2 separate regions of the Homo sapiens genome follow, and region 2 is linked to region 1. Evidence: fine-mapped expression QTL. Tissue or cell type: whole blood. Region 1 holds a variant in brackets; the other region holds the start of a gene. All regions are shown on one strand. Distances are from middle to middle.

The links. PIP is the estimated chance that this variant, and not a neighbour inherited with it, causes the effect.
Region 2: it holds the start of MAPK3, and the variant in region 1 is fine-mapped to the expression of MAPK3 in whole blood (INTERVAL, PIP 0.93).

The regions. Positions count from the first base shown.
Region 1 is chr16:30,147,133-30,155,231 of GRCh38, reverse strand. No RefSeq gene overlaps it. Among named protein-coding and RNA genes, the nearest start is that of MAPK3, 28 kb to the right of the region's middle. The variant G/A (reference allele first, on the strand shown) is at 3,387.
Region 2 is chr16:30,118,692-30,126,775 of GRCh38, reverse strand. MAPK3 (mitogen-activated protein kinase 3) reads left to right here and starts at 3,556. Exons shown (of 9, transcript NM_002746.3): 1 at 3,556-3,736; 2 at 4,770-4,952. The coding sequence starts at 3,567. RefSeq lists a silencer at 3,195-3,564.

The sequences.
Region 1 (8,099 bases):
TTCTCTCTCTTCAGCCTCCCAAATAGCTGAGACCACATGCATGCACCACCATGCCCAGCTGATTTTGTTTATTTTTGTCGAGACGGGGGTTTCACGGTGTTGCCCAGGATGGTCTCGTACTCCTGGGCTCAAGAGATCCTTCCATCTCAGCCTCCCAAAGTGCTGGGATTACAGGTGTGAGCCACTGTGCCTGGCCAGTTTTATTTTCTTATTGTGATAAAACATATAACATGAGATGTACCCTCCTAGCAAGTTTTTGTTGTTGATTTTTGTTTGTTTGTTTGCTTTTGATGGAGTCTTACTCTGTCGCCCAGGCTAGGGGGCAGTGGCACGATCTTGGCTCACTGTGGCCTCTGCCTCCCGGGTTCCGGCAATTCTCCTGCCTCAGCCTCCATGCCACGCAACCATCCCCAGCTAATTTTTATTTATTTATTTTTTAGTAGAGACGGGGTTTTGCCATGTTGGCCAGGATGGTCTCGATCTCCTGACCTCGTGATCCGCCCGCCTCGGCCTCCTAACGTGCTGGGATTACAGGCATGAGCTACCACACCTGGACCCGAGCAAGTTTTAAGTGTACAGTACTTTAAACTACGATCACAACGTAGTGCAGCAGATTCTAAAATTTTTCATTTTGCATGACTGAAACTCGATACCCAATAAACAGCAACTCCTCCTCTCCCCCTCCCCTCAGCTGCTGAACATCACCTTTCTAATTTTTGTTTTGGTGAGTTTGACTACTTTAGATACCTCGTATGAGTGGAATCATGCAGTTTTTGTCCTTCTATAACTGGTTTATTTCACTTAGTATAATGTCTTTGTCTTAAGCCATTCTTGCTTTGCTATAAAGAAATGCCGGAGACTGGGTAATTTACGGTGAAAAGAGGTTTAATTGGCTCATGGTTCTGCAGGCTGTACAGGAAGCATGGTGCTGGCATCTGCTTGGCTTCTGGGGAGGCCCCAGGAAACTTAAAATCATGGCAGAAGGCGAATGGGGAGCAGGCATGTCATGGCGAAAACAGGAGCAAGACAGCGAGAGGGTGAGGAGGGGTGCCACTAACTTTTAAAGAGTCAGATCTCGTGTGAACTCAGAGTAAGGGCTCACTTATTGCTAAGGAGATGGCGCAAGCCATTTATGAGGGATCTGCCCCCGTGATCCAAACACTTCCCCACAGGCCCCACCTCCAACATTGGGGATTGCATTTCTACAAGAGATTTGGGCAGAGACACACATCGAAACTGTATCAGTCTTCAGGGTTCATCTGTGTTGTAGCATATGACAAGATTTCCTCCTTTTTACAGCTGAATAATATTCCATTGTATGTCTGTGCCACATTTTCTTTCTTTCTTTCTTTCTTTTTTTTTGAGATGGAATCTTGCTCCATCACCCAGGCTGGAGCGCAGTGGCGCAATCTCAGCTCACTGCAAGCTCCACCTCCCGGGTTCACGCCATTCTCCTGCCTCAGCCTCCTGAGTAGCTGGGACTACAGGCGCCCGCCACCACACCTGGCTAATTTTTTGTATTTTTAGTAGAGATGGGGTTTCACCGTGTTAGCCAGGATGGTCTCAATCTCCTGACCTCGTGATCCGCCCACCTTGGCCTCACATTTTCTTTATCCATTCATCTGTTAGTGGACATTTAGGTTGTGTACACCTCTTGATTATTGTAAATAATACTGAAATGAACATGGGAATGCAGATATCTCTTTGAGATTCTGATTTCAATTCTTTTGGATAAATACCCAGAAGTGGCCAGGCGCAGTGGCTCACACCTGTAATTCCAGCACTTTGGGAGGCCGAGGTGGGTGGATCACTTGAGGTCAGGAGTTCAAGACCAGCCTGGCTGACATGGTGAAACCCTGTCTCTACTGAAAACACAAAAATTAGGCCGGGCACGTGGCTCATGCCTGTAATCCCAGCACTTTGGGAGGCTGAGGTGTGTGGATCACTTGAGGTCAGGAGTTCAAGACCAGCCTGGCTGACATGGTGAAACCCTGTCTCTACTGAAAACACAAAAATTAGGCCGGGCACATGGCTCATGCCTGTAATCCCAGCACTTTGGGAGGCTGAGGTGGGTGGATGACCTGAGGTCAGGAGTTTGAGACCAGCTTGGCCAACATGGTGAAACCCCGTCTCTACTAAAAATATAAAAATTAGTCTGCATGGTGGCAGATGCCTGTAATCCCAGCTACTCAGGAGGCTGAGGCAGGAGAATCACTTGAACCCGGAAGATGGAGGTTGTAATGAGCCAAGATCACACCACTGCACTCCAGCCTGGGCGACAGAGTGAGACTCTGTCTCAAAAAACATACACAGACACACACACACACACACACACACACACAAATTAGCTGGACGTGATAGCACACCCCTGTAGTCCCAGCTGCTTGAGAGACCAAGGCACAAGAATCGCATGAACCCAGGAGGCGGAGGTTCCTGTGAGCCAAGATCGCACCATTGTACTCCATTCTGGGTGACAAGAGCGAAGCTCCGTCTCAAAAATAAATAAATAAATAAATAAATAAATAAATAAATAAATACCCAAAAGTGGGACTGCTGGATCATATGGTAGTTCTATTTTTAATATTTTGAGGAACTTTCACACAGTTTTCCACATTAGCTGTACCATTTTACATTCCCACCAACAGTGCACGGGGTTTCCAATTCGCTCTCATTCTTGCCACACGTATTTTCTGGTTTTGGTGTTTTTTGTTTTTGTTTTCTATAGTGGCCATCGTAACAGGTATGAGGCAGCACCTCATTGTGATTTGGTGATATATATATATATACATCTAGATTTTGTCCACAGTTCCTGGTTCACAGCTCCCATAGCTCTTGCTAGAATGCTGGAGTGCTGCAATCCTCTGAAGCAGGCCTCATTGAAAAAAGAATCTCTTGGCTGGGTGTGGTGGCTCATGCCTGTAATCCCAGCTCTTTGGGAGGCCAAGGTGGGTGAATCACGAGGTCGGGAGTTCAAGACCAGCCTGGCCAACATGGTGAAACCCCGTCTTTACTACAAATACAAAAATTAGCCAGGTGTGGTGGCGGGCGCCTGTAGTCCCAGTTAGGAGGCTGAAGCAGGAGAATCGCTTGAACCTGGGAGGCGGAGGTTAGTGTGAGCGGAGATCACTGCACTCTAGCCTGAGCAACAGAGCAAGAATCCGTCTCAAAAAAAAAAAAAAAAACTCTCTCTCTCTGTTTGACCTTCTCCTGCTCTCCTTTCACCTGCTTCTTTTTCTCACCAAGGCAGGAATCTTCCCCTACCTTTCTGTATTGAAATTGGCCATAAAGAAACTCTCTGACATACCTTGTCTGAGTGTAGTTGATGACACCTTCATTTCGGTAGGACTCCTGCCCATACCCTGGAGGAAGGAAAGCTGCACAGAGAG[G/A]CCAAGGAGTTGCTGAACACAAGGGCCTTGCTGGGGTTCCCCATTCAGGGTATTAGTATTAGATCGTGCCCTTTTTGACCAATCACCTTTCTACACATTTGTCCATGCTTGAGTCATGCCTATCCAATTAAGTCTCCATAAAAGGCCAAAAGGACAGGGCTTAGGGAGCTTCCGGATAGCTGACCATGTGGAGGTCATACAGGAGTTAAGAAGAAATTACTTAGGCAGATAGTAAGGGTACAGAAGTCTTTGGTAAGGTTCTCCTTTTAATGAAAAGCAGCCCCAAATTATTTTCCTTTCTAACGAAGAGTAGCCTGTAAAATCGAGCTGCAGACATAGATGTTGGCAGTTGTGCCAATCATGTTCAAGATGGTGGCTCCATCTTCCCTTCTCTTTGTCAGCCACGTGTACAGTAAAGAGCAGACAAGATGGCGAAGGCCAAGGGGAAAGTTCATTTGCATAATATGATTAGGGTGAGGCAGCCAGCCTTCCCTGCATGCTATGTAATATCACTCTTGATCAAACCAATCTGTGAGTCCTATGTAAATCAGGCACCACATCCTCAAATCTGACTATAAAATATGGCACATCCCCCACCTGCTGGTCTTTTCCTCTCAGAAGTCCCCACTCTCACTAAAGAGAGAGCTGTGCCAGACATGGTGGCTCATGCCTGTAACCCCAGCACTTTGGAAGGCCGAGGCGGACGGATCACGAGGTCAGGAGATCGAAACCATCTCTGGCTAACACAGTGAAACCCCATCTCTACTAAAAATACAAAAAATTAGCTGGGCGTTGTGGCATGCACCTGTAGTCCCAGCTACTCAGGAGGCTGAGGCAGGAGAACGGCATGAACCTGGGAGGCGGAGCTTGCAGTGAGCTGAGATCTCTGCCACTGCACTCCAGCATGGGTGGCAGAGGAGACTCTGTCTCAAAAAAAAAAAAAAAAAAAAAAAAAAAAGAGGGAATCATGGAAACCCCAATTTGAAGCCAGTCGGTCAGAAGTTCTGGTGTGTGTAGGGGTGCAGTCTTGTGGGATTGAACCCTCAACTTGTGGGATCTGATGCTATCTTCAGGTAGATAGTGTTGGAATTGAATTGGAGGACACTCAATTCAGAATTGTCCATTGGAGAATTGGTTGTTTGCTTGGTGTTGGCAGGAGTTCCCCCCAACATTTGGTCACAGAAGACTTCTTTTTTTTTTCTTTTTTCTTTTCCTTTTCTTTTCTTTTTTTTTTGAGACCAAGTCTCACTCTGTTGCCCAGGCTGGAGTTCAGTGGTGTGATCTCTGCTCACTGCAACCTCTGCTTCCCTGGTTCAAGCATTTCTCCTGCCTCAGCCTCCCCAGTAGCTGGGATTACAGGTGCCTGCCACCACACCTGGCTATTCTTTTTGTGTTTTTAGTAGAGATAGGTTTTCACCACGTTGGTCAGGCTGTTCTTGAACTCCTGACCTCGTGATCCACCCACCTTGGCCTCCCAAAGTGCTGGGATTACAGATGTGAGCCACCGCACCCAGCCCGGTCACAGAAGACTTCTGTAGTGATTGTTACTGTGGTGTGAGAGCCAAGAAAAAAAACAGTTTGTGTTTTTTCTTCAGAGGTTTTGATTTGCATTTCCCTGGCGATTAAAGTTCTGATTTTTTAGTGGGTTCCTTAGGATTTACAGGATCTTATATATTTTCTTTTTTTGTTTTTGTTTTGTTTTGTTTGAGACAGAGTCTGACTCTGTCACCCAGGCTGGAGTGCAGTGGCACGATCTCAGCTCACTGCAAACTCTGCCTACCAGCTTCAAGGGATTCTCCTGCCTCAGACTCTGAGTAGCTGGGATTACAGGTGTGCACCACCATGCCCAGCTAATTTTTTGTATTTTTAGTAGAGACGGAGTTTCACCATGTTTGCCAGGCTGGTCTCAAACTGCTGATCTCAAATGATCTGCCCACTTTGGCCTCCCAAATGCTGGCATTACAGGCATAAGCCACCACGCCCGGCCTTGGATCTTGTATATTTTCTATATACAAGATCATGTAATCTATAGATAGTTTCACTTCTTTCTTTCCAATCTAGATGCCTTTTATTTCACTTTCTTGCTTAATTTTCCTGGCTAGAATCTCCAGTACAATACAGAATAAAAGTGGTAAGAGCGGACTTCCTTGTCTTATTTTGATCTGTCAGGAACTTTCACCATTAAGTATGATGTCAGCTGTGGGTTTTTCACAGATGCTCTTTATCAGGTAGAGGAAGTTGTCTTTTACTTGTAGTTTGTTGCATGGTTTTTTTCTTACGAAAGAATGTTGAATTTTGTCAAAGTTTTTTTCTGCATTTATTGAGATGATTAATTGCTTTTTTCCATTTATTCTAAAATTATGGTGTATTAAGTTAATGTATTTTCAGATATTGAACCAGCCTTGCATTCCTGGGATCATTCGCACTTGATCATGGTGTACTGTCCTTTTGATGTGGTGCTGGATTCTGTCTGCTGGTATTTGAAGATTTTTGCCTCTATATTAATAAGAAATACTGATCTGTAGTTTCCTTTCTTATGTCTGGCTTTGGCATCAGGGTAATACTGGCCTCATAAAAAGAGTTGGGAAATGTTGCCTCTTCTTCTATTTTTTGAAAGAGTTTATGAAAAACTGGTATTAATTTTTCTCTAAATGTTTAGTTAAATACAGCAGTGAAGCCCTGTGGGCATGAGCCTTTGTGGAAGTTTTTGTTTTTGTTTTTGTTTTTTCTCTCGAGAGGGAGTCTCGCTCTGTTGCCCAGGCTGGAGTGCAGTGGCACGATCTCATCTCACTGCAAGCTCCACCTCCTGGGTTCACACCATTCTCCTGCCTCAGCTTCCCATGTAGCTGGGACTACAGGCACCCACCACAATGCCTGGCTAATTTTTTTTTAGTAGAGACGGGGTTTTACGGTGTTAGCCAGGATAGTCTTGATCTCTTGACCTCGTGGTCTGCCCACCTCGGCCTCCCAAAGTGCTGGGATTACAGGCATGAGCCACCACGCCAACCTGTGGGAAGTTTTTTATTACTACTTCAATCTATTTACTTGTTATATGTCTATTCAGAATTTCCATTTCTTCCTGAAATTTGGTAGGTTTTTCTTGTTTTTCTAGGACTTTGTCCATTTTTCTAAGTTGTTTAATTAATTGGCATACAACTATTTATTGTATTCCTTTATAATACTTTTTATTTCTTTAAGGCTCATAGTAATGTCCCCAAGGTGTCTAATAAGAGGTCAGCTCTAGTTAAGTGGAGGCTGAAATAAATCATTTGAACCTCAAATAACTTTGGGGGAGGTCAGGTACTACATATATATATATATATATTTTTTTTTTTTTTGAGATGGGGTCTCACTCTGTTGCCCAGGCTGGAATGCAGTAGTGTGATCTTGGCTCACTGCAATCTCTGCCTCCCAGGGTCAAGTGATCCTCCCACCTCAGCTTCCCAAGTAGCTGGGAGCTGAGAGCACAGGCATGCACCACCACACCCGGCTAATTTTTTGTATTTGTTGTAGAGACCGGGTTTTGCCATGTTGCTCAAGCTGGTGTTGAATGCCTGAGCTCAAGTGATCCACCTAGCTTGGCCTCCCAAAGTGTTAGGATTACAGGCGTGAGCCACTGTGACCAGCCTAGTACTACATTTTAAATCTTTCATTTTTGCTGACATGAAAAGCTATTTATCTGTAAAAGTGGAACCTATCAATTAATCAGATTAAGCAAAAACTTTACATGTGGTCTGTCCAGAATAGGCAAATCCATGGAGACAATAATTAGATTAGTGGTTGCCAGGGACTTGGGGAGTAGGGAGGGGACAGGGAGTGGCTGCCAATTAGTATAGAGTTTCTTCCTGGGGTGAAAATATTTTGGAATTACATAGTGGTGACAGATGAACTTTGTGAATCAACTAAAAACCAAACCCACCAAACTGTACACTTTGAAAGGGTAAACTTAATGGTGTATGTTTTATATTCCAATAAAGCTGTTATTTTTTAAAAAGGTTATATGGGCCAGGCGCAGTGGCTCACACCAGTAATCCTAGCACTTTGAGAGGCTGAGGCGGGCGGATCACTTGAGGTCAGGAGTTCGAGACCAGCCTGACCAACATGGTGAAACCTCGTCTGTACTAAAAATACAAAAATTAGCCAGGTGTGATGGCGGATGCCTGTAATCCCAGCTGCTCGGGAGCCTGAGGCAGGAGACTCACTTGAACCCAGGAGGTGGGGGCTACATTGAGCTGAGATTGCGCCACTGCACTCCAGCTTGGGCAACAGAGCAAGATTCTGTCTTCAAAAAGAAAAAGAAAAAAAAAAAAAAGGTGGCTGGGTGTGGTGGTTCATGCCTGTAATCCCAGCATTTTGGGAAGCCAAGGCGGGTGGATCCCAAGATCAGGAGATCGAGTCCAGCCTCACCAACATGATGAAACCGCGTCTCTACTAAAAATACAAAAAAAATTAGCTGGGTGTGGTGGCACGTGCCTGTAGTCCCAGCTACTCAAGAGGCTGAGGCAGAAGAATTGCTTGAACCTGGGAGGCAGAGGTTGCAGTGAGCCAAGATTGCGCCACTGCACTCCAGCCTGGTGACAGAGCAAGACTCCATCTCAAAAAAAAAAAAAAAAAAAGTTATATGTGAACTCTGTTCCTAATTTTAAGTTATGCTGTATGTTCCTACCTTTCAATGATGGAATATGAAAGGAGAACAAAAAAGGAAAAGAAAAG
Region 2 (8,084 bases), 28 kb after region 1:
CAGAGGTTGCAGTGAGCCATGACCGCACCACTGCAGTCCAGCCTGGGCGACACAGCATGACACTGCCTCAAAAAAAAAAAAAAAGAAAGAAAGAAAGAAAAAAAGAAGTGCCAGACCTTGAAAATCACAAAAAGCTAATAACTGGTTTAAGATTTAATCTGGAGCCAGCCGAAGTGGCTCATGACTGTAATCCTAGCACTCCGAAAGGCCGAGGTGAGAGGATCACTTGAGCCTAGAAATTTGAGACCAGACTGGGCAACATTAGCTAGAACCCTTCTCTACAAACATTCTAAAAATTAGCCAAGCCAGGCACGGTGGCTCACACCTGTAATCCCAGCACTTTGGGAGGCCAAAGTGGGCAGATCACTTGAGGTCAGGAGTTTGAAACCTGCGTGGCCAACATGGTGAAACCCCATCTTTACTAAATATATAAAAATTAGCCAGGCGTGGTGACGTGTGCCGGTAATCCCAGCTACTTGTAAGGCTGAGGCAGGAGAATCGCTTGACCTGGGAAGTAGAGGTCAAGGTGAGCCGAGATTGTGCCATTGCATTCCAGCCTGGGCACAGAGGGAGACTCCATCTCAAAAAAAAAAAAAAAAATGCTGGGCGCAGTGGCTCACACCTGTAATCTCAGCACTTTGGGAGGCCGACACGGGCGGATCACGAGGTCGGGAGATAGAGACCATCCTGGCTAACACGGTGAAACCCCCTCTCTAATAAAAATACAAAAAATTAGCCAGGCATGGTGGCACACGCATGTAGTTCCACCTACTCAGGAGGCTGAGGCAGGAGACCCGGGAGGCAGAGGTTGCAGTGAACTGAGATTGCACCATTGCACTCCAGCCTGGGCAACAGAGCAAGACTCCGTTTCAAAAACAAAAAAAAAAAATTAGCTAGGCGTGGTTGTGTGTGCTAGGCATGGTGGCAGGATCTGTTGAGCCTAAGAGTTCGAGCCTGCAGTGACCTATGATCTTGCCACTACACTCCACTCCAGCCTGGGCAACAGAGCAAGACCCTGTGCTAGAAAAATAATTCTGCCGGGCACAGTGGCTCACGCCTGTACTCCTAGCACTTTGGGAGGCCGAGGCAGGTGGATCATGAGGTCAGGAGATGGAGACCATCCTGGCTAACACGGTGAAACCCCGTCTCTACTAAAAATACAAAAAATTAGCCAGGCATGGTGGCGGGTGTCTGCAGTCCCAGCTACTCAGGAGGCTGAGGCAGGAGAATGGCGTGAACCTGGGAGGCGGAGCTTGCAGTGAGCTGAGATCGCGCCACTGCACTCCAGCCTGGGTGACAGAGCGTAAGCTTCCACATCGTTTTCCCTCTGTCCCTTTTTTTGGGGGGGTGGGGGTGGGGGCAGGGTCTCTCACTCTGTCACCCAGGCTGGAGTGCAGTGGCACCATCAGAGCTCACTGCAACCTCAACATCCTGGGCTCAACTGATCCTCCTGCCTCAGCCTCCCAAGTAGCTGGGATTACGGACGCATGCCACCACACCCAGCTCATTTTTGTATTTTTGGTAGAGATGGGATCTCACTATGTTGCCCAGGCTGGTCTCCAGCTGCTGGGGTCAAGCAATCAGCCTGCCTCAGCCTCCCAAAGTGCTGGAATCACAGAGGTGAGCCACCACGACCAGCCAGCATCATTTTCCAGTTAAATGTTAATAGTATCTACTTCATATGGCTGCTGTGAGGATTACAGGAGGTAGTGTACATAAAAGTGCCTGGCAAGCCAGGTGCCGTAATCTCAGCACTCTGGGAGGCCAATGTGGGTGGATCACCTGAGGTCAAGAGTTTGAGACCAGCCTGGCCAACATGGTGAAACCTCGTCTCTACTAAAAATACAAAAATTAGCCGGGCGTGGTGGCTGGCGCCTGTAATCCTAGCTACTTGGGAGGCTGAGGTGGGAGAATGACTTGAACCCAGGAGGTAGGGGTTGCAGTGAGCTTGCACTCCTGCCTGGGTGATAGAGCAAGACTCCGTCTCAAAAAAACAAACAAACAAACAAACAAAAAAAAACCAAAAGTGCCTGGCACAGAAGAGATGGTAAGTCTACATTAGTTGAATATGCGTCTATGAACCAGAACAAATCCCAGTCCAGTCCTCCAAGGAAATGCCAACCTCAGTCACTAGAGGGGAATCTCAGTCACACTCTAACTGAGCTTCCAGCAGCAGGAGGTGGCAGCTTGCAGCTCTGATACACCAGCCTTTCCTATGCTGGGAAACTCACTCCCACTCAGCAAACCTGGCTCCATGCTGAACTCCATAGTGTTTTCTCTGAGTCACTATATTCTCCCGCAGTTGCAAAATGATCTGGCAAAAGTCCCTCTAGGGTTTTTACTGCTTACTGAGTAACATCCAAACTCCTTGCCAGAATCCAGAGCCTTCCTAATCTGGCCCCAACCTACCTCTCCAGGCTGAAACCTCATCATTTTTTTACTGCAGCCATGCTGGACAAGTTATGCTTCTGCCTTTATGCCTCAGCTCACCCCGATCCTTCTCCTTCATGCCTTTCTTCAGTCCCTACCTTCTGCAACCCTACTTTTTCTCTTCTTCTTTTTGTTTTTTGTTTTTGAGACGGAGTGTTGCTCTGTCGCCCAGGCTGGAGTGAAGTGGTGCAATCTCAGCTCACTGCAACCTCCTCCTCTCGGGTTCAAGCGATTCTCCTGCCTCAGTCTCCCAAGTAGCTTGGATTACAGGCACGTGCCACCATGCCCAGCTAATTTTTGTATTTTTAGTAGAGACGGGGTTTCACCATGTTGGTCAGGCTGGTCTCAAACTCAGGTGATCTGCCCACCTCGGCCTCCCAAAGTGCTGGGATTACAGGCGTGAGCCACCGTGCCCAGCCCCCCAATTTTTTTTTTTAATTAGCAGGGCGTGGTGGCGCGCACTCGTAGTCCCAGCTCTTTGGGAGGCTGAGGTGGGAGGATCACTTGACCCCAGGGAGGTTGAGGCTGCAGTGAGCAATTATTGCACCACTACACTCCAGCCTGGACGACAGAGAGAGACCCTGTCTCTATAATAAAATAAAAACAGTCTAGGACTCTGAGAGGCATGGAATTAGAAAGAGTCTCTGTGTCAGAAGACACCATTTTGAGTCTCAGCTGTCACTACTAGTGACCTTACCCAAGTTAGTAAACCTAACTCTCAGATTCTCCATCTGTAAAATTTGATCCATTTATTAGAACATTATTTTTAACCTAGGGTGATCCCGGGCCCAGGTTCTGGTGGGCTGCCGCATACATTGGCTGGGTGGCTCTGGTAGGTCACGCCCTGGCCGCTTCGCCATCGAGGGGAGGGTGAGGACAGTCTCCGAGGCGGCGCTGCCGAACCTCCCGGTGACCTGGAGGCCGCGGAGCCCGCAGGGACCCATGGCCCCCGAACCTGGGGCAAGAAGGGCGGGCGCGCGCGGGGCGGGTCACGTGACAGCTCCAGGCCCACGCGGGGCCGGGGCAAGGGCGGGGCCTGGCGCGCGCGGCCCTGCGGGTGACAGGCAGGCGGGAAGGGGCGGGGCCTCGGGCGGGGCCGCCGTGGGGAGGAGGGCGGTGGGAGGGGAGGAGTGGAGATGGCGGCGGCGGCGGCTCAGGGGGGCGGGGGCGGGGAGCCCCGTAGAACCGAGGGGGTCGGCCCGGGGGTCCCGGGGGAGGTGGAGATGGTGAAGGGGCAGCCGTTCGACGTGGGCCCGCGCTACACGCAGTTGCAGTACATCGGCGAGGGCGCGTACGGCATGGTCAGGTGAGGGGGCGTTCCGGGGGAGGGGGTGCCCTCAGGGGAGGGGGCTTCGCGGGAGAGGAGGAGGAGGCGCCGAGCGCTTTCCGGGACGTGGAGACGCGGAGCGTCCCGAGGAGGCAGGAGACTCGGGATGATCGGGAGCGTCCCAGGGAGGGGGCCCCTGAGTGCTTTCTGGGGGAGGGGGCGCTGCCTACGTCCTCAGGGGAGCAGGCTTGGAGGCTTTGAGTCCACCCTTCTGTAATGATGGGAGGGGCATCCGAGTGCATGTGGGGGCCCGCGGGGACCCTAGTGACACGGGGCGAGGCCCAGAGGATGAGTACTCTCGGGGAGGCGACATCCTTAGTGAAGAGGCAGTGGAGGGCCCGTTTTGGGGGAAAGGGTGTCTTGGATTCCCCCTGTGAGGCAGTGCCAGGGAGCCTGGGGGAGAAGAGCCGAGATCAGGGTGGGGCAGGGCTTTGGCCCCACCACCCCAGGGGCCCAGAGAGAGATGAGGCGGCCAGGAGTGCCACCTGCATGTTTTGGGAGGGGTCTGTGAGTGCCCCCGGCCCCACCGTGTGCTCTGGGCCTCTATCCCTCTGGGACAGCCCCGCTGCCCGGATCCCTCACCCTGGGACCCTCCCCTGCCCTGTCCATTCTCTCCTGCCCCTCCCCTGGCTGCCACCTTCCCAGTATTTGCCCCATGGTGTGTCCCCAGCATCTGCACCCCCGGACCTGTCTTGGGTTAAGGAGCCTTTCCTGGGAATGGGGGCGAAGGGTTCAGGGCCAGTAGAATGGAAGGGGATTGAGGAGAGGGGAAGTCAGTGAGCGGTCAGTCTCTTCCTCTGTTTGTAAAGTCACCGAAGGGCCGCCTGGCTGGTCCCCAGCTTTCTCTCTGGAGATCCCAGGCCTCCACAGCAGGAAGGAACCAGCATTGTTTATGATTTGACCAGAGCCAGCTCCTGCTCTCTCCCCTCCCTGCCAAGGCCTGGGTGGGGCCACCAGGCCCGGACTCCCCCTTTGTAAGGCCACAGCAGCAGCCTCTCTCCGGTCCCCTCAGCTCGGCCTATGACCACGTGCGCAAGACTCGCGTGGCCATCAAGAAGATCAGCCCCTTCGAACATCAGACCTACTGCCAGCGCACGCTCCGGGAGATCCAGATCCTGCTGCGCTTCCGCCATGAGAATGTCATCGGCATCCGAGACATTCTGCGGGCGTCCACCCTGGAAGCCATGAGAGATGTGTATCCTTCACCTTGGCCAGTCGGCTGGTCAGGCACGGCCTCGCAGCTGGGCTGGGGACCCGTTGCTTGGTTTCTGTTTCCATCTTACCCACCACCCTCCAAAACAAACCCAGTAAAATAAACTTTCCTGCAGAGGGGAAGCCACAGTGTAACAGGACTTGGAGACCTCTGATGAACCCAGGCCTGCAGCGGCCCAGGCAGTATGGCCTCGAGCAAGTGGGTTCTCTGCTCTGTGCCCCAGGGGGAAGGGCTAGGCAGGATGGTCTCTATGGGAGTGGTGTCTTCTGACGTCGGCAGTTCTGAGACATGACCTGGCCTCTGCCCACAGTCACTTCTTGCTAAGGAATGGATGATTCTTTCCTCTCTTTCCTCCTTGCCCAGACCGGAAGGGAGACAGGGAGAAAGAAAACTGTCAGCTGGGCGTGGTGGCTCACGCCTGTAATCCCAGCACTTTGGGAGGCTGAGGTGGGAGATTACCTGAGGTCAGTAGTTGGAGACCAGCCTGGCCAACATGGTTAAACCCCATCTCTACTAAAAATACAAAAAAATTAGCGGGGCATGGTGGTGCAAGCCTGTAATCCCAGCTACTTGGGAGGCAGAGGTAGGAGAATCGCTTGAACCCAGGAGCTGGAGGTTGCAGTGAGCCAAGATCGTGCCACTGCACTCCAGCCTGGGTGACAGAGCGAGACTCTGTCTCAAAACTAAACAAAAACAAAAAACTGCCTTTCTTGAGGGCCTGCTGTGTGTCAGGTACTATACATGCCCAATGCTTTTTTTTTTCTATTACACCTCCCAACTACCCTATGAGATGGGCTTTTCAGCTTCATTTCAAAGATGAGGGGTGGAGTGCAATGGCTCACATCTGTAGTCCCAACACTTTGGGAGGCTAAGACCAGAGGATCACTGGAGGCCAGGAGTTCAAGACCAGCCTGGGCAGCATAGTGAGACCCCACCTCTACAAAAAATTTAAAAATTATCCAGGTTTGGTGGTACACGACTATAGTCCCAGCTACTTGGGAGGCTGAGGCAGGAGGATGGCTTGAGCTTAGGAGTTCGAGGCTGCAGTGAGCTATGATTGTGCTACTGCACTCTAGCCTGGGGGACAGAGCGTGACCCTGTCAAAAAAAAAAAAAAAAAAAAAGATGAGGAAGCTAAGGCTCAGAAAACCTAAAATCAAGTGTTTCTGTTGCTGTCTCCTCCTCTCCTCCCCCAGATGGGAACTTGTCCTTCTTCTTAGGACTTCTCACTCAGAGCCACACCCTAATCACCTGTGGACTTGCACCTTGCCCAGGGAGGGACAGCCTAGCCTTGGCTGTCCTCCCCCAATACTGCTTTCCTAGTTTGCTGTCCACTTCCTGTCTGGCTCTCCTTAGCAACTTATGACACCTGTCACTTCTTCCCTGCCCCACCCACCCACTCTCAGTCCCAGCCCTCCACCCAAGAGTGGGGATTTGTACTGAGGTGTCTGCAACCCCCACCACAAACTGTGGACAGGAAATCTCCGTGCTCACCCCCAGCTCGCTGTGTGATCTGAAGCAAGTCACTGCGTCTCGCTGGGCCTCCCCAGCCCTAAAACAGCAGGGCTGGTCCACATATTCTCTGAAGACCCTTTCAAGGCTGATTCTTGTTTTCTTTGTTTTTTGTTTGTTTGTTTTTAGATGGAGTCTCCCTCTGTTGCCCAGGCTAGAGTGCAGTGGCTCAATCTCAGCTCACGGCAACCTCCACCTCCCAGGTTCAAGCTATTCTCCTGCCTCAGCCTTCCAAGTAGCTGGGACTACAGGCGCCTGCCACCACGCCCGGCTAATTTTTGTATTTTCAGTAGATGCGGGGTTTCGCCCTGTTCACCAGGCTGGCGTCAAACTCCTGACCTCAGGTCATCAACCCACCTTGGCCTCCTGAAGAGCTGGGATTACAGGCATGAGCCACCATGCCTGGTCTCAAGGCAGATTCTAAAAGACAGCCCTGACTTATTTTTCTAGAGACAAGCCAAACAGCATTTGTGGATTTATTTATTTATTTACGCATAAGCTTTTTTGTATCTTCAAATAGAAAAAGACATTTTACTCCTCCATCTTCTGAGGTATGGCCAAGCACTCTCCTTTGAGTGGGAGTGTGCTGTTGGGAGTGTCTCCTCATTTTTCTTGCACAAACCATTCCCATAAGGCAGGCATTTATTTTTAAGCAAACATTTATTGCATGCCAGATGGTGTTCATACATTATCTCATTTAACTCCCTCAACAGCCATGTGACTCAGGCATTCATATTAGTAATAATAGTTCATGTTTGCCTAGCACTCACAACTTGCCAAGCACTGGGCTGACAGCTTTACATGCGCCATCTCATCTAGTCTTCACAACCACCCTCAAAAGAACCATTATTTCATGGCTTGCACCTGTAATTTCCAGCACTTTGGGAGGCCGAGGTGGAAGGAACACTTGAACCCATGAGTTCAAGACCTGCCTGGGCAACAGAGCAAGAGCCCATCTCCACAAAAAGAAAACAAACAAACAAACAAAAAAACATTATTTCCCCTACATACCAGATGAGAAAGTTGAGGCACAGACAGGTTGAGATCCTAAAGCCAGTGAGTAGTAGAGAGGAGATTTCAGACATCCATGGGTTAACTCCAGAGTTGCTGCTCTTTTTGTAGGTTTTTTTTTTTTTTTAATTTATTTATTTTTGAGACAGAGTCTCACTCTGTCATCCGGGCTGCAGTGCAGTGACACAATCTTGGCTCACTGCAACATCTGCCTCCTGGGTTCAAGTGATTCTCGTGCTGCAGCCTCCTGAGTAGCTGGGATTACAGGCACATGCCGCCGTGCCCAGTTAATTTTGCTATTTTTAGTAGAGACAGGGTTTTGCCATGTTGCCCAGGCTGGTGGTCTCAAACTCCTGGCCTCAAGCAGTCCTCCCGCCTCAGCCTCCCAAAGTGCTGGGATTACAGGTGTGAGCCACCACTCCTGGCCCAAGTTGCTGCTCTTAACTGTGAAGTTCTCCTGCCTCCCACAGTTTATTATTATCCCCGTTTCCCCGGTAGGGAAACTGAGGCCTCAGAAATGAAGCCCCTTGCTCAGGATCAGCAACTGTGATGCAACAGAGGCTCAGAGCCCTGCCGCTGGGTAATGGCAGCA